3 separate regions of the Homo sapiens genome follow, and regions 1 and 3 are each linked to region 2. Evidence: fine-mapped expression QTL. A gene starts in region 2. Each other region holds a variant in brackets. All regions are shown on one strand. Distances are between the middles of the regions.

The links. PIP is the estimated chance that this variant, and not a neighbour inherited with it, causes the effect.
Region 1: its variant is the best candidate, but not a certain one, in a credible set for the expression of ATP11A in whole blood (TOPMed, PIP 0.88).
Region 3: its variant is the best candidate, but not a certain one, in a credible set for the expression of ATP11A in whole blood (TOPMed, PIP 0.64).

The regions. Positions count from the first base shown.
Region 1 is chr13:112,876,611-112,884,788 of GRCh38, forward strand. It overlaps ATP11A (ATPase phospholipid transporting 11A), which reads left to right. Exons shown (of 30, transcript NM_015205.3): 29 at 1,607-1,693; 30 at 5,266-8,178. The coding sequence ends at 1,684. Among named protein-coding and RNA genes, the nearest start is that of MCF2L-AS1, 88 kb to the right of the region's middle. RefSeq lists enhancers at 2,655-2,799, 3,911-4,055, 5,136-5,280, 6,452-6,596 and cis regulatory regions at 2,727, 3,983, 5,208, 6,524. The variant C/T (reference allele first, on the strand shown) is at 4,817.
Region 2 is chr13:112,686,822-112,694,999 of GRCh38, forward strand. It overlaps ATP11A (ATPase phospholipid transporting 11A), which reads left to right and starts at 3,217. Exons shown (of 30, transcript NM_015205.3): 1 at 3,217-3,634. The coding sequence starts at 3,596. It overlaps LOC102725228 (a long non-coding RNA gene), which reads right to left and starts at 2,994. Exons shown (of 2, transcript NR_187633.1): 1 at 2,842-2,994; 2 at 1-2,048. RefSeq lists enhancers at 2,054-2,571, 4,870-5,371 and silencers at 2,820-3,749, 3,770-4,009.
Region 3 is chr13:112,790,627-112,798,804 of GRCh38, forward strand. The region is part of intron 2 of ATP11A (ATPase phospholipid transporting 11A); the gene reads left to right. LOC124903252 (a long non-coding RNA gene) reads left to right here. Exons shown (of 2, transcript XR_007063947.1): 2 at 1-5,061. Among named protein-coding and RNA genes, the nearest start is that of ATP11A-AS1, 40 kb to the left of the region's middle. RefSeq lists an enhancer at 1-175. The variant G/A (reference allele first, on the strand shown) is at 3,183.

The sequences.
Region 1 (8,178 bases), 190 kb after region 2:
AACAATGCAAGTTTTCAAGTTTCATCCCCGAAATTTCCAATCACTCCTTGAGGTGGAGCCCTGGACTGGGCAGTGCTGAAGCCCAATGGGGAAATGAGGGGTGGGGGCCCCTGGCAGTGGCTGCTCCTGCAGGGTGTGAGGCTCCCCAGGTGGGAGGAAGACGGGGAGTGAGTGGGGGCCGGGGCCCCAGCCCTGACTCACTCACGTAGCTCAGACACCCGGGGGCTGGCTCCCAGCGGTGCTGCTGTGCTGGGAGGGAAGACAGGTTGCCCTCCCTTGGGGGGCACAGCCTCACCCACCACCCACCTCCAACAATCAGAATGGGACCCTGGCTTGAGAGCTTTCTTGGGACATTGGTGCCGATTTGAAATGTTGAAACCGATGCCACCAGTTCCCGGCACTCCCTCCTTCATGCCTCCTGCCACAGTTTGTAAAATCAGAGCGAGCAAAACTCGTGGTGAAGAGACTGCCTCTCAATGTAGTGAAAATGTCCACACACAGCTCCACTGACTCGGGGGCCACAGGCAGGAGAAACGCAGCAGAACGTGCCAGTTGGCTGCTTATAAGAAGGTCCCACTGAGGGGCCTCTGTGCAGGAGGGGAGACAGTGGGAGCAGGAGCCGGGGCCCTGGCTGAGACTCCGCGGCCCCCAGTGCTTCAGGGGAAACTCACCGGCCCCAAGCAGCCACTCACTGCCCAGCCCTGCCTGTGGCCCGAGAAGCAGCTGTCCAGTGGTGGTTTTCTCTAAGCACGGTCCTTGGTTACTGAGCTCTTTAGCTGTGCAGTTCCACAGCGGGCACACGTGTTCATGACAGGGCTCTGTGCATGGGACACGTGTTCATAACCACATCCCATACATGGGGACGTGGCAGACACACATGTAACAAGGACATCAGGCACAGAAGAGACAGCAGGGCTGGGGGTCTGACCCCGAGAGAGAGCAGGTGCAGCTTGGGGGTGTCTGCTGGGCCCCTAGCTGTGGCCACAGTGGTGTGGCTTGGGGTTTGCACGAGTCTCAGCCCCACCTGGCCCCTGGGTGCATGTGGCTGCAGAGGTGCTTGGTCAAAGATGCCTGAGCAGGCAGGAGTTGAACTCGGGGGGTTAGGAGGGCCTCTCCCCGCAGGAGTCTGGGCTCTTCCATGCACTGTGCACGCAGCCTCCAGAGTCGGGGCTGCCGAGGGCCACGCCCCCGGATGTGTCTGACCACAGGCCCTCTGCTCTGCAACTCATCTCCAGGATGGGTGGGCACTTTGGGAATGCCAGTGAGGACCCTCCCCGTCCCACCCTTTGTTTAGAAGCCCCTGTATTGCTGTGGGTCTCTGCGTCCCACAAGAGCCCCGGGAATGCTTATGAACAGCTACACAGCGGGACCTGCAGAAGGCATAAAGCAGGGGGTGGGAGGGGCTGGCGGGTCACGGTGGGGGGCACCAGTGTCCGCCCAGAGTGACCAGAAGAACTTGCACGTGGTGGCGAGCCTCTGACTAACTCAGCTCTGTCTCTTGTTTCTCTTTCCTTCCCATTTCCTTCCGTCTTCCGACCGCTTTGCCTAAATCCTCACACCTTGTTCACACACCCCTGTGTGCGTGGCCGCTGACCTCGGGACTAAGACTAAGAGCCAGTGCCTTTCTGTCGAGCAGTCAACCATCTTTATGCTTTCTCAGACTTCCAGCAGCCTGAGTTTCTGATGGAACAAGGTGATGCTCCTCTGCCTTCCACGCACCTGGGATGGTAGACACGGGGCAGCAGGGCCATGCCCATCACCAGAGCCCTGAGTCCACGTGCTCTGACGCAGCGTCCACCAGGCGCTGGGTACAGCAGCCTCACGTCGGGAAGTCCCGCCACCACTTACACCTTCTCATGCACAGACTGATCATGGGCTGTGCTTTCCATCAGTCACAGTTAACCAGGGTTTCTCCCTCAGCGTCCGTGCAGCCTCAGAACCCACCTGTGTGAGGGTTCAGACACAGCTGACAGCGGAGAGCTGGCCACATGACCCCTCACACAGGTGTCAGAGGGGTTCCTAAGCAGGAAGGTGTGAGAGTTTGCAATTCACAGGTCATCCAGGCTCTGAGCTCACACACCCTTCCCTCTGCAGCCTGTAGAGCGTGGATCACAAGGCCTCCTCCCTCACGCACCCACTTCTGTGCCCATTCTGCAGCTGGAAAGACTGAGGGCAGCTAGGATAACACGGTTTGCTCAGGACCCATGCACATTTCAGAAAAGGGGAGCCAGGCTGAGCCACACAACTGGAGACAAAGAGGGGACGGAAGTGTTTGGTGTCAAATGTTTGACCAAATTCCCTTTTTACTGTTTTTTAAATGAAAACCTCATTGTTTTTCAAAAAAGCCTTCTATTAATAATTTGCTTTAAAAATGACGACCTTGGCCTTTCTGGGCAATGTAGAGGCGTTCACACGCCATTTTTCTGCGGTGGTGTCCATGATAAGAGCCGAGATTGCAGGGGCCTGCACGCCGTCCTGAAGTCGCGTTCTGTCTTTTAGCCGTGTGCTCCTGCACCAAATACCGCCTTCACGCATGCCTCCAAATCAGTGATGCTTTGAAAATGCATACTTGGTATTACTGTTTTACCAAATGCAGCTTAGAAAAATGCCCAAAGCAGAAAAAGGCTTCTTTTCCCTTTAATAACATCATCTTCTATATATTTTAAACAGGATTTTTAACTGACAAAATGGTCCTTTTTTAAGTCCAAGCAATTAATCAGAATCAACAGTTTTCTAATTTAGTGTCATCAGAATTTGTTAGATTAAATTGCAGAATTTCATCTCACCATTTCTGTACTTGAAGACATTTAGGATGAAATTATTAGGAACATTTTAATGACTCATAAGAGGTCCTTAAGAAACTGATTAAATCATGCCAACTCTGAGCTAAAAATAAGCATTCTAACGATTCATGTAGTTTGTTGAGAGCTGATTTGCTTCTGAGCATGTACGGAAGCTGAGCCCGGCTGCGTAGAGACAGTGGCACGGAGTTTCTCCTGCCCCCTGCGAGGCCTTGGGCCCCGGCATGACCCCCACAGACAGGGCCGGCGTCCACACTTGAACAGAAAGCGCCTGCAGCCAGCACATGCCCGGCGCACACGGGAACACGCCGTGGCGCCGAGACCACCTGCGTTCTGCAAAACTTTGGAGGAATAAACGTGTCACTAGTCCTCACGTGGGGCATATGTTACTTCCAGTGGATGGCTTTCTTTTAACCTGTTCCTACGGAAAAGAAAAGCATCACAGGCCTCAGATGTATATGTTATATATGTGCGATTTGCACATATATGCCCGTGCTGGCATCTCTGCGTATCTGCATGCAGTTCACTTCTCCGTCACTGTCCCCAGGAAGGGTGGCAGCCTCATCCTCTGTTTCCTACTTCTCCTCACCTGGGCGTTTGCCCATTCAGACGTGCAATTGTGCAATTCCAAGCCCGCAGTTCTTCAGCTCCTGTGCTTCCCTTATTCCTTGAATAAGGCTGGGCTACAAGATCTCAGTGGAGTTCTGTGAGCACGCTGGACTCAGGAAAGTCCGTCGCAGGGCCCTGGTAGAGCGGTTACTGGAGCTCGCTGTCTGCCGTGGAAGTGGGCGTGTGGCTGAACGTGTGGCTTCAGGATTCCAGCGGTGCCTGGTAGACCTTCCAGCCGAGGGACCTCAGACCCTCTGCCTCCCGCGGGTGCATGGCCCGTCCCTGAGCCTGTCGCTGTCTCAGTTCTGGGCTCGGGCCCCTCATGGGAGCGGCCCTGCTGGGACAGTGTTTTCCCAAGACGCCCCAAGCCCTCGCCCTGGCAGCTCCATGACACCCCATGCAGACTCCAACAGGGGCTTCGAGCCTCTTCCTGCTGGGGTCCCACGGATGGTGCAGGCAGAGGCCCGAGCACTCCTGGTGGCCCCGTGTGGCCCACGTCGCTCAGTATCTTTCCTCGCCTTGCAGAGGGGTGTGAAGCACAAGGCTCCAGTCCAGGCCGCACAGAGCAGCGATGGGCCCCTCCTGAAGGACCTCCTACGGCGGCCAAGGCGCAGTTAGCTCCACGCTAGGTAACTGTGCGGCTGCTGGACGCCGCCCGTGTGCTGTGACTGTCAGACCCGTTTTTCCTCCAAAGTTGTGCTGTGCTGTGCTGTCTTTGATAACAAAGGTTCACGGTGAGAAAGAGCAGCCCTCTTTACACACACATGCATTTGCTGTCCCAGGTAAGTAACACGCCTGAGGGCAAGCTGACCACACATGGAACATGCTGTGCACACACACGTGTGCACACTCACCCCACACGCACGGCACACAGCCTGACCAGACCCAGCATCGTCAGACACAGGCTCACGATCCTGGTCTTTCGGGGGACACAGCTTCACTTAAAAGGCCCATCAGGAAGGACCGTGCTTTGAAATCAAACGTGGTTATTGCATGGTTTGTGTGGAACTGGGGCCCAGGCAGGTGTGAGTGCAGGTCTTCTGTGTGCCAGCCGGAGCACATAGCTTGTCGCCTCTCCAACAGACATGGAGGCCATGAAGACATCTGCTCCTGCCAGCATCCGCCGCTGCCCCCTGGTCTAAAAGTGGGCTGACCTGGGGACGGCCCCTCATCAGACAGATGCGTGCTGCCGGCCTCCTGCCGCTCCCCTTGCTGGTCAGACCCACAGGGCCCGTGCACATCCGGGGCCCCAGTGGGCTGTCAGAAGCCATGCAGGCCCCATCCGTATGGTGACATCCTAGGCAACATGTCAAGGGGATGCAAGCTGGGCACGTCCAGTACTAAATCAACCCGGTCCCTGTGGGGTGGGGCCTGCCTTCCCTGGGGCAGTGAGTTCGCCTTTTGTT[C/T]AAGGGTCTCTGGGTACCGGTATGGCGTTCGAGCTCACTGCACAGGAAGCCAGCTACAGGGAGGAAGCTCGTAGGTTTCCCGTCCATGGCCTGTATCCCTGGGGCCCCTGGGTTCTTCCCTGGGATGGTGGGACAGGGGGACGGTCACTCTGTTGGTACTGAAAAGGAGAGGCCCTCATTCCTAGACAGAGACCCCTCGCCTCCATATGGCTTCTCTGGTGGGGTGGATCCCGCCCGGCCTGCCCTCAGGACGAGGGTGTGTCCTGAGTTGAGTCTAGCAGTTCCTGCAGGAGGCGATGGTAGTGAGTGCATCCCAGAGTGGCTCAGGTCACCCCAGGCAGCCCCGTGGGTATCCCTGAGACTGACCATGTGTCTCGTTCTCTCAGCAGAATGGGTGCGCACAGCCTCGGGACCGCGACTCAGAATTCACCCCTCTTGCCTCTCTGCAGAGCCCAGGCTACCAGAGCACCTGTCCCTCGGCCGCCTGGTACAGCTCCCACTCTCAGCAGGTGACACTCGCGGCCTGGAAGGAGAAGGTGTCCACGGAGCCCCCACCCATCCTCGGCGGTTCCCATCACCACTGCAGTTCCATCCCAAGTCACAGCTGCCCTAGGTCCCGTGTGGGAATGCTCGTGTGATGGATGGTCCTAAGCCTGTGGAGACTGTGCACGTGCCTCTTCCTGGCCCCCAGCAGGCAAGGAGGGGGGTCACAGGCCTTGCCCTCGAGCATGGCACCCTGGCCGCCTGGACCCAGCACTGTGGTTGTTGAGCCACACCAGTGGCCTCTGGGCATTCGGCTCAACGCAGGAGGGACATTCTGCTGGCCCACCCTGCGCGCTGTCATGCAGAGGCCATTCCCCCAGGCCTGTGTCTTCACCCACCTGCCATCATTGGCCTTTGCTGTCACTGGGAGAGAAGAGCCGTCCAGGGACCCATGGTGGCCCACATGTGGATGCCACATGCTGCTGTTTCCTGCTTGCCCGGCCACCACCCATGCCCTCCATAGGGTGAGGTGGAGCCATGGTGGTGCGTCCTTTACTCAACAACCCTCCAATCCGGATGCTGTGGGAAGGGCCGGGTCACTCGGATACCATCATCCCTGCGGATGCACCGCCGTACCCTGCTCATCTGGGAGTGGTTTCCCTGCGGTTACGTCCAAGCCCGCCTGCCCTGTGTGTTGGGGCTGGCTGAGTTTCGGTCTCCCCATCACCGGCCGCCTCGTGGAGAAGGCAGTGCCACGTGGGAGGACAAGGCCACGCCGGCAGCTTCCAGCCCTGCCGCAGAAGTGCCAGGATGTCCATCAGCCACTCGCCAGGGCACGGAGCCGTCAGTCCACTGTTACGGGAGAATGTTGATTTCGCGGGTGCGAGGGCCGGGAGACAGATACTTGGCTGTGATGAGCAGACATCCTCTGTCCCCGTGGAGGGGTCAACACCAAGGTGGTGTTCGTGCACCAGAACCTGTCTCGGGCTGACGGGGGTGGCACACAGGACACGGGTGGATCCCAACAGGCAGCACCGCACCTCTGCCCGCCTCCCGCACTGCAGCTCCGCCCGCCGGGCTCTGCGTCCCCACGTCCCCTCGTCCCATCCCCACGTCCCCTCATCCCGTCACCTCGTCCCCACATCCCCTTGCCCCGTCACCTCGTCCTCATGTCCCCTTGTCCTGTCACCTCGTCCCCACGTCCCCTCGTCTCCTCATCCCCACGTCCTCTCGTCCCCTTGTCCCGTCCCCACATACCCTCGTCCCCATGTCCCCACGCAGGGCTCTCCTTCGTCTTAGGATCTGTCCAGCGCTGCTCTGGGTGGGTTAGCAACCCCAGGGCTGCTGTGATAGGAAGTCCCTGTTGTTCTCCGTACTGGCATTTCTATTTCTAGAAATAATATTTGACATAGCCTTAATGGTCCTTAAAGAAGACATTTCAGTGTGAGATTCAGACTTCAGACGCTGAAACTGCTGCCTTTCAGGAAAGCACCACCAACGCTGGAGGAGGAGCCGGCCCTCACGCCCGCCCCGCGCCACGCTGTGGAACGGGGCTCCGGCAAGTGAAACCCAGAGGGTGTTTCCGAGGTGCTCGACAGTAGGTATTTTTGGAAGCTCAGATTTCACCATTTGATTGTATAATCTTTTACCTATAAAATATTTATTTGAAGTAGAGGGTAAATCAGCGGTAAGAACAGTGAACACAGTGGTTGGGATAAAATAAGGTGACAAACATCACACCAAAGATGAGGGTAGCGAGCAACTGGCTTGAGCAGACAGAACGGGGAAGACTCCACTCTGTCCCGAGGGGCCAGCCGCAGGCGTCCCCAGGGCCACCCTGCCCTGAGGTCCTTGTGTGGCCGCCCTGGCTTGGCAGCCCTGCCCACGCTGCCCCCGCAAACAATGGTGTGTGCGTTTTTACAGCCCTTTTTAGGAACCCAATATGGGCATAAATGTAACACCTGTAGCGGGGGCAGATTCTCTGTATGTTCAGTTAACAAATTATTTGTAATGTATTTTTTTAGAAATCTTAAAATTGCCTTTGCACTGAAGTATTTTCATAGCTGTTTATATCTCTTTTATTCATTTATTTAACATACTGTCTAATTTTAAAAATAGGTTTTTAAAGCTTTCATTTTTAAGTTTATGAAATTTTGGCCACTTTACATTTAGATTCTGGTGAGAGTTTTGACTGAATGTTCCAATCTCTGATGAATGCGAATTTTCAGATTTGATTTTATTCTCTACACACACCTCTTCTTTTCTTGGTATTTCTGGTGGCAGTGATTAGTTGAACAGCACATTTAAGGCACGATAATTTGCTACACTTTTTCTTTACAATTTGTTGCAATTTCATCTGCTTTCTATGTTTCATTGTTAATTGCCATCCTTCAGCCTTAAAAATAGAAGATTCTCACGTGAAGGTTTAGTAAGTTGGGTCCCAGCTCTGCCTGTGTGGAGATAGTCACCATGTACCTCTGACAACAAGTTTTAGTGTGAAAGTCACTAAACTTTTACACACTCCCAAACGTCTTTTTAAAAATTGCTTGGGAAATTATTAAATGAATGTGCCTGATGATTTGAAATAGACAAGGGGCACGAGATAAAAAAGAAAAGGATGAGAAGATCCTCAGTGAATGACGTTGCAGGGTCTTCATGCAATTTTCCACCTCGCAGTAGTTAGTATTTACTTGCCTTAAACTAACTTTGAAGCAAGTAATGTCAACTTTGAGCACTTTGTTGAGTTTTGAAAAATCTTATTTGTTGCTGCACAGGTTAATAAATTATCAATTTGTAATTCAGCATGTTGGTCAGAGACACGGTCACTGATTCACACCCAGTCCCTGCCACAGACCGTCTCAGACACGCACAGTGGGCCT
Region 2 (8,178 bases):
CCCCATAAATTCTCTGTATGATAATCCCTCATAAGGATTAGGAGTTCTCATAATCCCTCATAAGGATCCCTGTCTGTACATGGGATCCTCCCATCAAGGAGTGAAATCTACGTTCTTATCCCTTGAATCTAGGCTGGCCTTGGAATTTATATTCACCAGTAGAACATGGTAGAAGTCATATTCTTGGACTTCCAAACCCGGGCCTTACAGGCTGTATAGCGTCCACATTGACCCTCCTGAGCTGCCATGTAAAAAACTCAGGCTAGACCACTGAATGATGAGAAGCCAGAGAGAGACAGCAAGGCCGGCCTGCCCCCAGTGTTCTATCACCCTAGCTGAGACCCCAGCTGTGTGACTAGACCACAGGAAGCTTCCAGCCCCAGCTGACCCCCAGAAGAATGCAGCTGCAGGACAATCCCAGCCAACAACAGGTGGAGCAGAAGCACCATCGCACCAATTCCGCAGGGTCCTGAGAAATGGTAACCCACTCACTGCCGTTTCAGCTCCTGCACTCGCGGTCACTCGTGACACAGCCAAAAATAACTGACTCACAGGGTGTCTTAGTCTGCTCAGGCTGCTGTAACAAAATCCTTTAGATGGCTATTCATACACACAGAAGTTTGCTTCCCACAGTTCTGAAGGCTGAGAAATCCAAGATCAAGGTCCCAGCAGATCTGGCATCTGAGAAAAGTTCTCTGCTTCATAGAAGGCCTCTTCTAAGCATCTTCATATGGCAGAAAGGGCAAGCAGGCTCCCAAAAACCTCAGTTTTAAAGGGCACTAATCCCATTCCTAACCACCTCCCAAGGCCCCCACCTCTTAATATTTGGGATTAGGTATCAGGTATTTGGGATTAGGTTTCCACGTGTGAATTTGGGAGGACACCTTCAGACCATAGCACAGGGTGAGTTGGACTTTGTTTTTTAATAGCCCTGATTTTTTTTTCTTAGATTTACCGTGAAGATGCTGACATGTGTTAGAAACAGAAAATCCAGCTCATGTGGTTTAAACGGAGACGTCTCTCATAGCAGGAAATTCCAGGTGAGGGCAGCAGGATTTTGGTGAATTGCCTGGTTGTGCCACCAAGGACTCCTGCTCTTCTCATCTTCCCAGGCGGCCACCCCAGGGTGAAGATGCTCTTCCGGCCACCTTCTCTTATAAGTGCAAAGGGCTGCGGAGCACCAGGCATTGCATCCAGACAGGGAATGCAACATTCACCAGGGAAAAAGGAGCATTTCCTCTTTATGTTCCTGTAGGAGTGAGAAAACCTTTGCCAGACAACCCCCAGCAGGCTTCCTGTTGGGACTCATTGACTTGAGCTTGTTTGAAGCCAATTGTTGGAAAGAGAAATGGAGTTACCAAGATTTTCTCAAGAGACAGAGTTTACCCTTAGCCACACAGAGTGGATACCTGAACCAGCAAGGATAGAGAGGGCATGGCTGCTGCATTGTCAACCAACAGTATTCACAACAGAATGAAAAACAATTCACATTTACTACTGAATAAAGCAGACACTCCTGACAGACAGGCAGCCTTGATCTAGTGCCTTATACAACCTCTGATTGCGCCTCGACCCCAATCCCACAGTCACGGTTTACAAGGTAGAAGCTTAGTCAAAATCCGGCTTCAGCAGTCAGGGTTCTTGCAGGAAACTGAAGGTGTTCTTGGGAGGGGATTTGGAAGCGAGTTTGATGAAGGACTCTTTGTTGCGGTGTGGTCATGGTTCAAGGATCCTTCAAAGGGTGCTGCTATTTAGGGACCAGCAACAATGGCAGACCGACAACATGTCTCACCCTAAGAGGCTTGGGGGCGGGGAGAAGTTCTGTTCGTAGAGCCTAGAGGAGTTGTGCAATGGAAAGGGCACCCAGGAAGAATCGTAGCCACAGAGTGAAACCAACACTGGTGGGTGTGGGGCCAGGCCAGGAAGGAGAGGGGAAGAGGCCCCTGCCTCCCTCCTACCCGGTCTGCAGCAGGTTGTCCCTGTGGGTGAAGATCCACTGAGGGGGACCGCCAGCTTCCTGAGCACAGGGCAGGCCAGAGCAGGACAGGCTGGGATGGAAAATGAAGAATCAGTGCTTTAGCCGACAACAAATGGGAGCCGTTTACTGTTTAGTCACTATGATTAGTGTTCACTAGTACTCATTTCTCTTCGTCTAAAAAGTGGCCAACACCATCTCTTTTCCACAAGCACTCGGGAGAACATTCATATTCAATTGCCTTCCTAAGACCCAGACGGGGCAGCGCTCTCCACAGGCCACCAAAAGGTGTTGCCTGTTTGGTTTCATCAGTGATTATCTGTGGCAGCAAGACAGGAAGTTGGAAATCAAGTACCTCAATTAAGTCAAGGCTGACCGTGGAATTAGAGAACAAGTGTTTGTTACCCCGGCCAGGTCACCCTAGGGAAAACAGGCATTCTCCGGGATTGAAATGGTGGTGTTTGTGTGGTAAATAGTTCTCAGTCCAGTTCAAAGCCAGCAGCATTAAGGACACGCCACCGCCACCGGGAGCTGGAGACCAGGCGAAGCTGAGCTCCTCTGTGGTTCACCAACCCCTCAGGCCGCCTAAGTGTCTTCTGCTGTCGCAGCTTTGGGGACAGAGGGGTTTCGGAAACAGGGGCCTCTTGTCTGCACCCTCCCCTCCCACTGACAGGCTGGCAGCCCAGGGCAGCCACCTGAGGAGCGTCCCTGTGTCTCTCCATCTGCAGAGCAGGAAAAGCCTGCGGGTCGGTGGCGCCACGCTGGGGCGAGACCCAGCTTCGGCTCAGGAGATCTCCCACCCAGCCGGACTCCCGCTCTCTGCCCGCGGCCCCCTCCCACACTCCCACCTCGCCCCGCGATCTCACTGCCCCATCGAGGCTTCCGGGCGGAGGAGAAAAGTTTTCCGGCAGGAACCCGGGAAGGAAGCCCTGGGACCCTGGCTGAAACTCCGGGTTTCCCCAGTGCCGAGTCCCTTCCCCGCCGCGCCCAGCGCCTGCGCCCCGGGAGGCGGAAGCAACAGGGGGGTTCCTCCCCGCGGCCTCTGACCTCTGCCCTCTGCCCTCTGCCCCCAGGGTCTGGGGCCCGGGCGGAGGCGCGAGGGGGCAGGGCCGGCGCGCGGGTGCGAGCGCGGGTGTGGGCGCGGGGCCGGCGGGGGCTGCGGCCGCGGGGCGCATGCTCACTTGCGCCGGTGACGTGCGCGCCCGGAGCAGGGGCAGGAGCCAGCGGGGCCCGGAGGCTCCAGAGGGCGGCGGGCAGGGGAGGAGGAGACTCGGGAGGAGCAGAGCGCAGGCTCCGCCGCGGCCGGGGTGCTCCAGCCGAGCCCAACCGAGCGGGCGGACCGACGGGGAGAGAGAAGGCGCCAGAGCGCGCGCGCGCGGCCCCGAGCAGCAGCCTTGCCGCCAGTGGAGCAGCTGCCGACGCGCGGGGCCGCGGACCCAGCATTCGCCGGCCGGGCCGGGCATGAGCGCGGAGGGGCCGCGGCCGCCCCCTGCACCGCCCGGCGCGCCGAGGCCGTGACCGGAGCGGGGGGCGCGGCCGCACTAGTACCCCGGAGCCCATGGGCGCGCCGAGCCGGGCGCGGGGGCGCTGAACGGCGGAGCGGGAGCGGCCGGAGGAGCCATGGACTGCAGCCTCGTGCGGACGCTCGTGCACAGATACGTGAGTGCTCCCGGCGCGGGCTGGGGGACCCGGGGACCAGACAGACGCGGGCCGGCCCCGCAGCCCGGACCCTGTGGCCGGTCCAGCCCCGGGGTCCCGGGAGGTCTCCGATGTCTGGGACTCGGACCGCCCCCGGGGACGAGCGGGATGCTGGGGAGGGGCCTCGGAGTTGACACCCTGGGGCTTCCGACGGGGTCTAGGTGGGCACAGCGCGGGGCCCCAGCCCCGGGCGGCCACCTGCTCCCTGGCCGCGGCCGCCTGGCGCCCCCTTCCCGCCCGCAGCGCCCTGGGGGTCCCTCGGAGAGGCTGGCTGGGGTTCGAGCTGTCCCGGCGGACCGGGCGCCCGGAGGGAGCCAACTTCGACCCCGCCGGGGCCCGGGTCTGGGGAGGAACCTTCAGATGCGGCTTCCGCGCAGCCGTGTCTGTAAGATTAAGGGATTGGGAGGAAGCGTTACACTTCTGCAGAAAAAGGTAGCAATTGTGTTTGTTCTTTAACACCCCTGGGGGATTCAGAAGCGGAGTTTGGAATCTTTTTATTTTTTACCTTAAAGTAACCAATTAGATCAGAAGTCCGGGGTCTTCTTGGGTTCCTCTGGAATTTGCCCCTTCAGTGATAAGCAAGTGAAGAGCTCAGGAGGGAAGACTCGGAAGGGGAAAAGTTGATTTTGTTTTACACCAGAGGAGGGGAAACCGGAATCCCTGGCGTTAGGTGTAAAAAGGGGTGTGTGGCCGGGCGCGGTGGCTCACGCCTGTAATCCCAGCACTTTTGGAGGCCGAGGCGGGCGGATCACGAGGTCAGGAGTTTGAGACCAGCCGGACCGACATGGTGAAACCCCGTCTCTGCTAAAAAATACGAAAATTAGCCGGGCGTGGTGGTAGGCGCCTGGGATCCCAGCTACTCAGGAGGCTGAGGCAGGAGAATCGCTTGAACCCGGGAGGCGGTGGTTGCAATGAGCCGAGATCGAGCCACTGCACTCCAACCTGGGTGACAGAGCGAGACTCTGTATCAAAAAAAAAAAAAAAAAAGGGTGTGTGTGTGTGTGTGTGTGTGTAGGAGAGGAAGAAAACTGTCCCAAGCACAGCGTTTCCTGCCACTGTCTTGCACAAGAGGCTTCATTGTTCCATAGAGGCTGGCGGTCACTGGTCAATCACAGGTTCGAGAAGTCGCATGCACCGGGTTTGATACTAGAGAGGGCAGTATTATGGGAACTTTGTTCTTTCCCGGCATAGGAATTACCTCAGGCAGCCTTTCATATTTATGAGCCTTCTTTAAATAGGAGACCTTGGCCAAAGATAGATAGGTTTCTTTTCAGTGGGGGATGCCAGATCAATGCTTTCCCCCGGATTTATTTATTAACCAAAAACCTCGGAGAGTCAAGGAGACTTGAGTGCACCTTACATCGTTTCCTGATCTCGGGGAAGCCTTAGGAAGGTCAGCCTGACTTACTTAAGTGGAGAGAACTCACCCCTGGTGATTCTGATGATTCCGATGCTAGATCTTGAAAGGCTTGGCTCCAGGAGCCTTGTGTTACTCCCTCACTGGTGCTCGAGCCCCCAGTTCAAATCCTAATGTGAGTGGTAAACCTGTGTTTCACTGTGGTAACGTTATAGAAGACCCAATCACAGTGACTATAGGTAACCTGCAGTGTAAGAGAAATGCTTTATTGGGCGGAAGCTTCTGTTCTCAGTTGTGTCGCTCAGAAGTGTGGGTCCCTAGACACCTTATTTTCCTGCTTTGTTTCCTTCGAGCGAAATGGAAGAGGGAAGGGACTAACACTCACTTTGCCCGCGGTGTTCCCAGTTCATTCCGTTCCCTTCTAACACTCAGTGTTAAAAAGGAGGGTCACGTTGTGGGGCTAATGTGCAGCCTCTTTCCATAGAAATGAGAGATGGATGGGCCAGCCCGGCTCACCCTTTGGAGAATCCCCCCTTCCCAGCCGGTTTCTGACCCCTTCATCTTGGGAGGGGGACAGACAGACGTCCAATTTTGATGCTTGACTCCCTTTCTCCAGGCCTTCAGCTGTTTTCTGTTATATAGATCTATATAAGTGTTTGCGTAGCTTGCATTTTTAATTCCCCTTTGCTGTATTATTACGCTTATGGCATCACATTTTCTTTTAATCTAAGCGGTAAATATTCTTTAGTGAACTTTTCCAGCATATACATTATTGGATAACGTCTCGGGAATACGAGTTGTGGGATAATATTATTTCTGTTTTTCTCATTCCACCTGTGTTTTTTGCAGTGTATTCATCTGGCTACCTCACCCATATTTACACACAGAGCCATTCATCTCTATCATTTTAAGTTCATGTCTATGGTATTAAACTAATTTGACTTTTTCCAGAAACAGTCATGATCTGTTTTCTTGTAATTGCGTTATCGTCCACTATGTAGGACTAAATTATATTTCCTTTTGCTACAGAAAAAAGAGTCTGGGATTGAATACTCATATTTCCTCATGGTTTCCTTATGTGACTTACTTTATTAAAAAGGATAGATAAATAGACCCTGTTCCTTCTTGGTGTTCACATAGTCAGAATTCCTGGGACAAAGAAAGCTTTCCAGCTCCTTCTGATGTGTGAGGGTGGCTAAAAGATAAAGAAGTCCTTGGAAAACATTGCTGTAGGCATTTTATTGTGGATTAACCCTGGAGAGATAGCAGAGGCAAATGAGTGAGAGAACAGATGAAGGTTAGGCCAGGGTAGCCAGGTACTCCACACTGTGTGTTACTGGTGGTTTGGGTGTTTGGATGGACCGGAGCCATGCAGAGATACTTTGTATTTGTAAATGGTGCCGTGTTTGTATACCATGAGGAGTGCTTGTGCTTATGGGGTAGTGTATGCTCCCTGGGGTGATGTATGTGCTCTGGGGGGCGTGGGGAAAAGCGTGTGTGCCGTGGGGTAGTGTATGTGCTGTGGGGTAGTGTATGCTCCCTAGGGTGATGTATGTGCTGTCGGGGGCGTGAGGTGGTGTATGCTCTCTGGGGTGATGTATGAGCTGTGGGTACGGGGAGAGGGGACGGGGTGGAGAGTGTGTGTGCCGTGGGGTGGTGTATGTGCTGTGGGAGCCATGGGGTAGCGTGTGTGCCGTGGACTGGCGTATGTGTTGTGGAGTAGTGTATGTGCTATGGGGTAGCATATGAGCCATGGGGTAGTGCATGTGCCATGAGGTAGTTTGACCTCCATGACGTAACACTTTAAAAGCACTTCTAGGCCAGGCGCGGTGGCTCATGCCTGTAATCCCAGCACTTTGGGAGGCCGAGGTGGGTGGATCGCCTGACATCAGGAGTTCAAGACCAACCTGGCCAACATGGTGAAACCCTGTCTCTACTAAAAATACAAAAATTAGCCGGGCATGGTGGCGGGTGCCTGTAATCCCAGCTACTCAGAAGGCTGAGGCAGGAGAATTGCTTGAGCACAGAAGGCGGAGGTTGCAGTGAGCTGAGATCGCACCATTGCACTCCAGCCTGGGCAACAAGAGCGAAACTCGTCTCAAAATAAATAAGAGTATTTTTAACAGCATGGATGGAGAGCGAGTTCCATTTCCTCTTCAGAGCTGTAAGGTGAGCAACACCGATTCAGGTAGTTTAAGTTCCGAGAGGAACCAGGGCAGCCTCAGCGGGTAGCTTAGATACTTTTCTTAGATACTCTCTGGGCAGTGGCCTGAATGCTGAGTGGGAGCCTCCCTGCCCTTCTTAGCCATGTGGCCTTGGGCAAGTGGCTTAATTCCTTCTGCCTCAGTTTTCTCCTCTGAGGGTAAGAGCAGTACTCATTTCATAGCTATTGTGAGGGTTGAATGAGGTAATCTGGGTGGAGAGCCAAGAATGGGGAAGCTCTCAGTCCGTTTGTCATGCCTGGCTGTTAACATAGCTGAGTCCCTGGGTAGGGTTGGCTGGGGAGAGAGCAAACCTATGGGCTGCCAGTGCTGCTGCTCAGCTACCTGTGGGTCCCGGCCTGCTGGCGTCGTGGGTCACAGGAGAGGTAAACCGGGCACCCTGACACTGAGCATGGTGTGGAGCTCAGGTAGGATTCAGAAAGCTTTACACGCTGTGGTAAAACAGCCCTTGATCTCTGTAAGGCTGAGCATCCCGGCGTGGGCAGGATGCTTCCCTCCCTCTTCCCTTCCATGCCTCTATGTAGGGCATTTGATTTTTCTTCAGAGTTCTGTGGGTCAAGAACTCAGTCTTGTTATGGTCCTATAATCTTCTTTCAATGATTCAGCCCAGATATTCCTTGTTAGTTTTGTTCTTTTGCCTGTCAGAGCTTCTGCTTGTTTCTACCTTACCATTCTTGCTTCTTAACATTCTAAGATAGAAAACATTGAAGGATCTGAAGGATTTCCTTGCTGACAGTAGATAATTACTTTCAACACAAACTGTTATAAGTTTTTTTCTAAGAGAAAAATAAACATTTTTGCTTCCCGAGAACTTGAAGCAGTGCTATATTAGAGTGTGTTAAACCTTCTAGAAAGTCCAGCTATTTATATGCATGCATACATATCTGCTTCTTTTATTTATTACCGAATGGTGTATAATGTGAACA
Region 3 (8,178 bases), 100 kb after region 2:
TTAATCCACACCGGGTGTCCTGATGTGTAGACCCCTGCGATAGACCTCCTTAATCCACACCGGGTGTCCTGATGTGTAGACTCCTGTGGAGACTTACTTAATTCACACTCAAGCATCCTGGCATGTAGACCCCTGTGGTTCTTAATTATTTATGTGCTCTTGAAGAGTTGCACATTTTTAAAGAATATTTTACAACAGAAAAGGTCACCTTTTCAAAGCCTTTTTTATGGGATTAATTTGTAACTACAGGATTGCAAAAAATTTTAATAGCTTTAACCTCTAGAAACAGGATATGTAAATGCTGAAAAACAAAGTCCCAACCAGATAAGTCCTGTGGGTGGTTTCCCAGTCATGATTCATGGAAGGAGAAATGTACTGATGAGAAATCACATCCAAAATATTGTCTCTGCAGTGGTAATACTTACAAAGTCGACGCAGTCTCAGGCGGAGCTCACTGAAGATGGTTTCCAAGCTTATATGTACTTCACCCATCCCCCACCCTCCAGCCCAAAACAAATCCCAAACATACTGCTTAGAACTCAGCCTGCGCAGCCCAGAGGTACAGAGAGGCAGGAAGCACCCAGGTGTCCACATACGGTGCCATTGTGGACTTGTAGGGCAGGATTCCAGGATATGGGTGATGGGCGTGTGGAACCGCGGCGCCCCCTGCACAGTGTGGCTCATTTGAGCCGGATGGGGGCCGTGAAGGCATCACCCAGCCTGCCCCCTGGGAGCTGGCTTCTCCCTTCCTGGGGCGGAGCTCGCCCGACAGCCCCACATGCCTGGTTCTCCCTGCAGATGAGGGTGCTGTGTGGGGTCACAGGGAAGAAACCAGCAGCAGCGGCAGAGCTTGATCCAGGCATTGGAGGAGGGTCCTGGTACCCCTGGCAGGGGCTGGCGGGAAGCTGCACTTCTGTCATTGCCCATGGCGGCTTTGGAGGAGATGACAGAGCATGGCGAATTCTGCCTCCCACTCCTGACCCCTCTGCTGTGTCATTCAAGTTTTGTCCTTTTCCTACTGTCCGTTTCGAACGTCACTGCAGGCAGTGGCCTCGGTGGCTTCGCTCCGCCTGGCCCTGCTCCCTGGCTCTGTGCTACCCTCTCTCCCCCTCGGCTGGGCCCTTCCTCTCCGCTGCTCCCTGTGGAACTGGAGCCCCTCAAGGTCTCTTCAGTTTCTGATCCGGGGAGCCCTGCAGGTTGTCAGGATGGGTTTTGTGGGCTTATTGCTGCTTTCCAGGACCTTTGAGAAGCCGTAAGTCTCCTTCCTACCAGGAAGCCCTCACTCAGGAACGCACAGACCGGGGTCAACAGGCTCTCAGGAGCGCCGTCTGCGTGCAGGTGGAGGGTGTGGCGGGGCCAGGAGAGCACTTGGCCGCCTTTCATCTCAACCTCTGAGGACAGAAGGGGGCTCTCAAATCCGCCCATGCATTGAGATCTTCGCTCTTCACAGAGGTGGGATTAGTAGCTTAGTCTCAGTTTCAAGTGGATGAGGTTGTGTAATTTCAAGGGAAAATTACATCCGGCAATACCTCTTTTGCTAATGGAACTCAGGAAGGAAAGGCCCTCAGAAAGGCTGGAGTCTGGAATCTAGGCAGGTAGCTGGCCTGACAGTAACCTTGATCCAGGTAAACCAAAGTGGAATTCTCGAGCCTGGAATTGATGACTCATAATTGTTTTCATTTAACAGCTCAGGATGTGTGAAAAAAAAATGCTGTTTAATTTGTAAGACCTAAGTTTACGACTGATTTTGGAGAATACATTTGTGATAATGTATCTATGTTTTCCTGGGGTGGCGGAGGAAATGATTTCTACCTAAAAAAAAGAAATGCTAGTAGTTAAGACTTTTTAAGTGCCACAGAAGCTTGTTCTCAGCAAGTTTGCTTTTATGAAATCAAAGGATGAAAGCCTTTGTCATGGAAGAAGTCGTAATAGAGGATGAAAATGCTGTCGGGTTATTTTTAACTTCTCATCTGTTTGACGGAAGTGCAGTTACTGGTGATAGGTGATGATAGAGTTTGTTTCCTTCTTGGGGGAGAGACTTTGGGCAGTGTCAAAACCTGAAATGACAGCCCAGCACGCCCCGTTCCCTGCTTCCTGTGCTGTGCAGAGCTCCCCCAGGCCTGCTTGCACCCCCCACGTGGGGAATCCTGAACTCCACAAAGGGATGGATCACTGCATGCCTCCTTTTCCAGATTTGTACTTTGGGGCACAGAATTCACATGGTTCCCAGCTTTGCCCACAGGAGGCTACAGAATTAAATGTTGGCTTAGACTATACTGTCCCTCCATGCCTTCAAGAAAGTTGAATCCTTCTGGTAATTGGGGAGAAAAAATTCCCTCTGCAATTCGTAGGTATAGCCAGTGTTTTCATGACTTCTATTTGTATAAATGATTTCCATGTTTATTATATCATGTAATCTCTAAAACAACCCTGTGAGCCCACCAATACTGATTATTACCAATGTATCCATGAGGAAGCTGAGGCTTAGAGCTCAGTCATGTGCCTGAGGCCACAGAAGAGGATAGAGCCCCTGTAGTCTGGCACTGGGCTTGGACTTCCTTCCGCAGAGCCAGGGGCCCTTTCTTTTCATTTTTGAGACAGAGTCTCTCTCTGTGCCCAGGCTGGAGTGCAATGGTGCGATCCTGGCTCACTGCAACCTCCACCGCCCGGGTTTAAGTGATTCTCCTGCCTCAGCCTCCCAAGTAGCTGGAACTACAGGTGCCCACCACCACACCTAGTTAATTTTTATGTTTTTAGCAAAGATGGGGTTTTGCCATTGTTGGCCAGGCTGGTCTTGTACTCCTGACCTCAGGTGATTCACCCGCCTCGGCCTCCCAAAGTGCTGGGTTTACAGACGTGAGTCGCCGCGCCCATCCAGGGGCACGTTTCTTAACAGCCCCTCTGGGTGCTCACGAATTTCCGGCATCAGCAATCCACCATCCTGGCATAATTTTCTGTGTTTTGCATCCCTGCCTCCCGGTCATAAACAAAAGAGTGACCTCAGTTCCATGCGAGTGGCTGCTTGTCCCAAGCAGATGGGTGTCCGGCGTCCCCGCCTTTTTCAGGACTGTCAGGTGGGCCCTGTGGTGCTGGAGCTGTGTTCAGGTGAACACTAGTTGAGGCTTCAGACAGCTTGTAGGTGCTCCTGCGGGCGCCTGGGCTGCTGGCAGGGGACAGTGCCC[G/A]GGTTCGTCTCGCAGCCAGAGGCCAGAGGCAGGCCAGGTGAGGCCATGCTCTTCCCTGTCTGCACACCACACTGCTGGCAAGTAACACAAAACAGAGACTGGCTACCCCAAGGGGCAGGAGGCAGCGGAAACCTGAGGCTCAGACACTAGTGAGGCGTTCCAGCTCAGGGCCAAAATCAGAGCCAGGGCAGCTGTGGACTCTGGCTATGGCGTCTGTCGTACAAGTGAGAAACGAAAAGAATGACTGTCCCGTGTCATTCAGCAAAACACATGGTGTCTTTGGAGGTGAAGAGAGGTGCCAAGCACCACTCGGTTTTCCCAGATTTCCTGTAGGAGGAAAACCACTTGGTTCTATGCTGTGGCTTTCACGCCAGGAGCTCCTAGGATTGAGGACGTCTACTGATTGTATCACAGTCGAAGGGCCCAGTGTTACATTACATTGTGTCCCCAGGCAAATACTTACATTTTTACAATTCAACAACGATGAGCGAAGGATAACTGTCCACCATTGTCAGCCTTCCCACTCTAACGTGTGGAATAAAATGCTCATTTCAGTTGATTGTATCCCGATGGTACTGCTGTGTCAGTGCAGTCACGACCCTTTAAATGAGTTCCCTGGGATTTCACTTTTCTTGTTAGACATCACCAGGAATTAATAACCCTCCTTTTGACAATAGTAGTGGTCAGCAGTAATAACTTACTCTGTGAAACATAGAGATTACACAGCATCATGGGGCTTGGCTGCAGCCCTCAGTGCCTGATTAGAATAAAGCAATTGAGGCCAGGCGCAGTGGCTCACACCTGTAATCCCAGAACTTTGGGAGGCCGAAGCGGGCGGATCACGAGGTCAGGAGTTCTAGACAAGCCTGGCCAACATGGTGAAATCCTGTCTCTACCAAAAAATAAAAAATTAACTGCGTGTGGTGGCGGGCGCCTGTATTTCTAGCTACTCGGGAGGTTGAGGCAGGAAAATCGCTTGAACCCGGGAGGCAGAGGTTGCAGTGAGCCGAGATTGTGCCAACGCACTCCAGCCTGGGTGACAGACAGAGTAAGACCCTGTCTCAAGAAAAGAAAAGAAAAAAAGAATAAAGCAATCATGCAGGTGGTTTCAAATTCCAAAGCTGTACAGTAACATTCAAATATGGCAAGGCCCTGCCAGGTGCGGTGGCTCACGCCTGTAATTCCAGCACTTTGGGAGGCTGAGGCAGGTGGATCACCTGAAGTCAGGAGTTCAAGATCAGCCTGGGCAACATGGTGAAATCCCGTCTCTATTAAAAATACAAAAATTAGCCGGGCATCTTGGGGGGTTGCCTGTAATCCCAGCTACTCGGGAGGCTGAGGCACGAGAATCGCTTGAACCTGGGAGGCAGAGGTTGCAGTGAGCCGAGATGGCGCCACTGCACTCCAGCCTGGGCGACAGAGTGAGACTTCATCTCAAAATAAATAAATAAATAAGTTATGGCAAGTCCATGAGTTTGCACAGCCTTCCAGGCCTGATGGAAGTAGATCTGCATGTTTGGAAGGATTGCAGATCATATTTTATCTCATAAATATTACCAGAACTTCCTCGTGTAACATGGGAACTTTCAAAACCATAGAGAGGAGCATTGTAAATCTCTGTGGCTCGTCTCCACTGTCACAGTTCCCAGCTTGTGGCCAGCCTGTTGCATCTGCACCTTCACTGTAGTTCCAAGGGTCCTTTGGAAGGAATCCTGGACAGCGTGTACTTTTCATCTGAAAGTACTTCAGTAAATGAAAGGTGGAATTTTAAGTAGACTCTTTTTTCATTAATGTGACTTTGTTACTGAGTGATGTATTATAGAAATTTGTGGAAACGTATAATTGTAATAAATTTGTTGGCTTGGATGCTGGAAAGTAAGACTGGCCTCACATGGGTGAGCTAAGGTATTTCTTTAATGTATCCTTTTAAAAGCTAATGGAGAGTAACTGACTTTTTCATTGTGGCCCATTTGAGAGAAAATATATCTTTCTCAAATATTTAAAAAGGTCGATCACATGTGTAATGTTTGCCAAGTTGTATACACAAGAAAACTAGAACTCAGAATCATTAAATAATTTGCTGAAGTTTACATGGTTTTTAAATGGCAGGGTCAGGATCGAATATGGGGACTGACTCTGAAGTCTATGTGTTTCATAGTATGCTAAAGAGTAAATATTTCCAGAATTTCGATAGAGTACCTAAATTATCTTGAGGTGGGGTTAGCAAATTGTGAATTAAGATTGTGGTTTTTGTAAAGGAAGAAAGTGCCTATACTTTTATTGGCAATCTGGTGTTTTTGTTTGCTTTTTTTCTGAATGAGAAACAAAAGAAATGAAGAGCTAGCCATGTGTTCTCTACTCTGTCTCAGTTTGTATGGCTACTTTTCCATCCAGAGCTCTTGCCTTTTGGTTCTCAATTTGGTTGCATTCCCATGAAGAAAACCTAGTGTGGCAGGCAGAAGGATGGCCTCCCACAGATGTCCACATCCTGATCCCCAGAACCTCTGACTATGACACTGTCTGTGGCCAGGGAATCAAGATTGCCAAACAGCTGACATTAAAATAGGGAGGTGATTATAGAACTATTCATGTGGCCAAAAGTAACCACAGAGGCACTTGTAAGTGGAAGAGGGAGGCAGAACAGACTGTCCGAGCTACGACTGGCTTCAGAGGTTGAAGGGGACCAAAGGATGTAGGCAGCCTCTGCAGGAAGCAAGAAAAGGCAAGAAAAGTTTCTCCCTGGAGCCTCCAGGAAGGAACCAGCCCTGCTGATACTTTAATTTTAACCCAGTGAATCCCATTGCAAACTTCTGACCTCCAGAACAGTAAGGTAATAAATTTGCATTGTTTTAAGTCACAAAGTGGAATTTGTTATAGCAGCATAAGAAACTCATACACCTGTCCTAACTACTTTGGGGATTTATAATACAGACTGTACGGAGATTGACGCGGTGTCAAAGGACCCGTGACCTTGAGACATGCCCATAGAATCATACACCTGCCCTAGCCACATCGGGGATTTGTAATACAGGCTGCTCAGAGACTGACGTGGTGTGCAAAGGACCCGTGACCTTGAGACATGTCCATAGAAACTTTCCAAACTGAAGAGCAAAGAGGAAAAAAGAGTGAAGAAACAGAACAGAACTGTGGACAACTACAATAGGTGAAGCAGGCCAGGCACGGTGGTCACGCCTGTAATCCTGGCGCTTTGGGAGGCTAAGGTGGGCAGATCACCTGAGGTCAGGAGTTTGAGACAAGACTGGCCAACATGGTGAAACCCCGTCTGTACTGAAAATACAAAAAATAAAAATTTTTTTTAAAAAAATTAGCCAGGTGTGGTGGCAGGTGCCTGTAATCCCAGCTACTTGGGAGGCTGAGGCACAAGAATCCCTTGAAGCTGGGAGGCAGAGGTTGCAGTGAGCCAAGATAGCACCACTGCACTCCACCCTGGGCAGCCAGAGTGAAAACTCCATCTCAAAAAAAAAAAAAAAAAAAAAGGTAAACCATATATGCATAATGAAAAAAACAAAAGAAGAGAGAAGAAATATCTCCAGTAAAAGTGGCTATTTCCAAAATTAATGGCAGATGCCAAACTACCGATCCAGGAAGCTCAGAGATAAATACAAAAGCAGAATAAATTTTTTAAAAAGGGTACACCTAGACATATCACATTTAAATTGCAGAAAATTAGACTCAGAAAAAATCTTGAAAGAAGCCACAGGAAAAGAACATTTTACCTGCTGAGAAACAAGGGTAAGAATTATATCAAACTTTCTTCCAGAAACCATCTAAGGAAGAAAAGAATAATGTAAAATATTTAAAGTGTTGAAAGAAAAAGCCAGCAACCCAGAATTCTGTATCTCATAAAATTATCCTTCATTCGTGAAGGAGAAATAAAGACTTTTTCAGGCAAACAAAAATTGAGCGAATTCATTGCCAGTAGACCTCCCTTGCAAGAAATGTTAAAAGTTCTTCAGAAAGAAGGAAAATTATATAGGTCAGAAATTCAGGTCTACTTAGGAAAGAAGAACACAGCACTAAAGTGTGAGTTTTTGTGCTGTTACAACAGAATACCACAGACTGGGTAATTTATAGAGAAGAGACATTGATTTCCCCACAGTTCTAGAGTCTGGGAAGTCCAAGATCAAGACACTGGCAGGTTTGGTGTCTGGTGAGGGCCCCATCTCTGCTTCCAAGATGGCTCCTTGAGCACTGCATCCTCTGGAGTGGGGGAAGGCTGTGTCCTTATGTGGCAGAAGGCAAAAGGGCAAAGGGGCAAACTCCCTCTGCCGAGCCCTTTTATACAGGCACCTAATCCCATTCATGAGGGAGGAGCCCGCATGGCGGAATCAGAACTCTTGAAGGCCCCGCCTCCTGGGACCGTGACTAGTTGTCACATTGGCAACACCTGAATTTTGGAGGGGACACATTCAAACCATAGCAAGAAGGAATAAGTGAAGGTAGTAAAATTAAATATTTTGCTTTTTTGTTGTTTTTTATTTCTTTTAGAGACGTGATCTCACCATGTTGCCCAGACGGGTTTAGAACTTCTGGGCTCAAGGGATCCACTGCCTCAGCCTCCTGAAGTGCTAGGATTACAGGGCACAGCACCCAGCTTGCTTTTCGTGTTCTTAATTGGTCTAACAGAGAGTACTTTATTCAGAATGATAATAGCATTTACTCAGTGGTGATTGCTCAGGGGTGAATGAAATGTATGACAGCAGTGCCCTGGGGGGCAAGAAGGAACTGGGCATGCTGTTGCGAGGAATCTGCGCCACACACACAGTGCGGGTTATGTGAGAGTGGGCGTATATTGTGGCCTCTAGTGCAACCACTAAGTAATTTTTTTAAAAAATAAGTATAGTTGATATTCTAAGACAGGAGAGAAAATAGTCACATCAAATGCTTAATTAAAACCCAAGATGGCAGGAAAAGAGTATAAGTCACAAAAGAAACAAAGACTATGAAGAAAGGAATAAAAGTCAGTTACAAATAT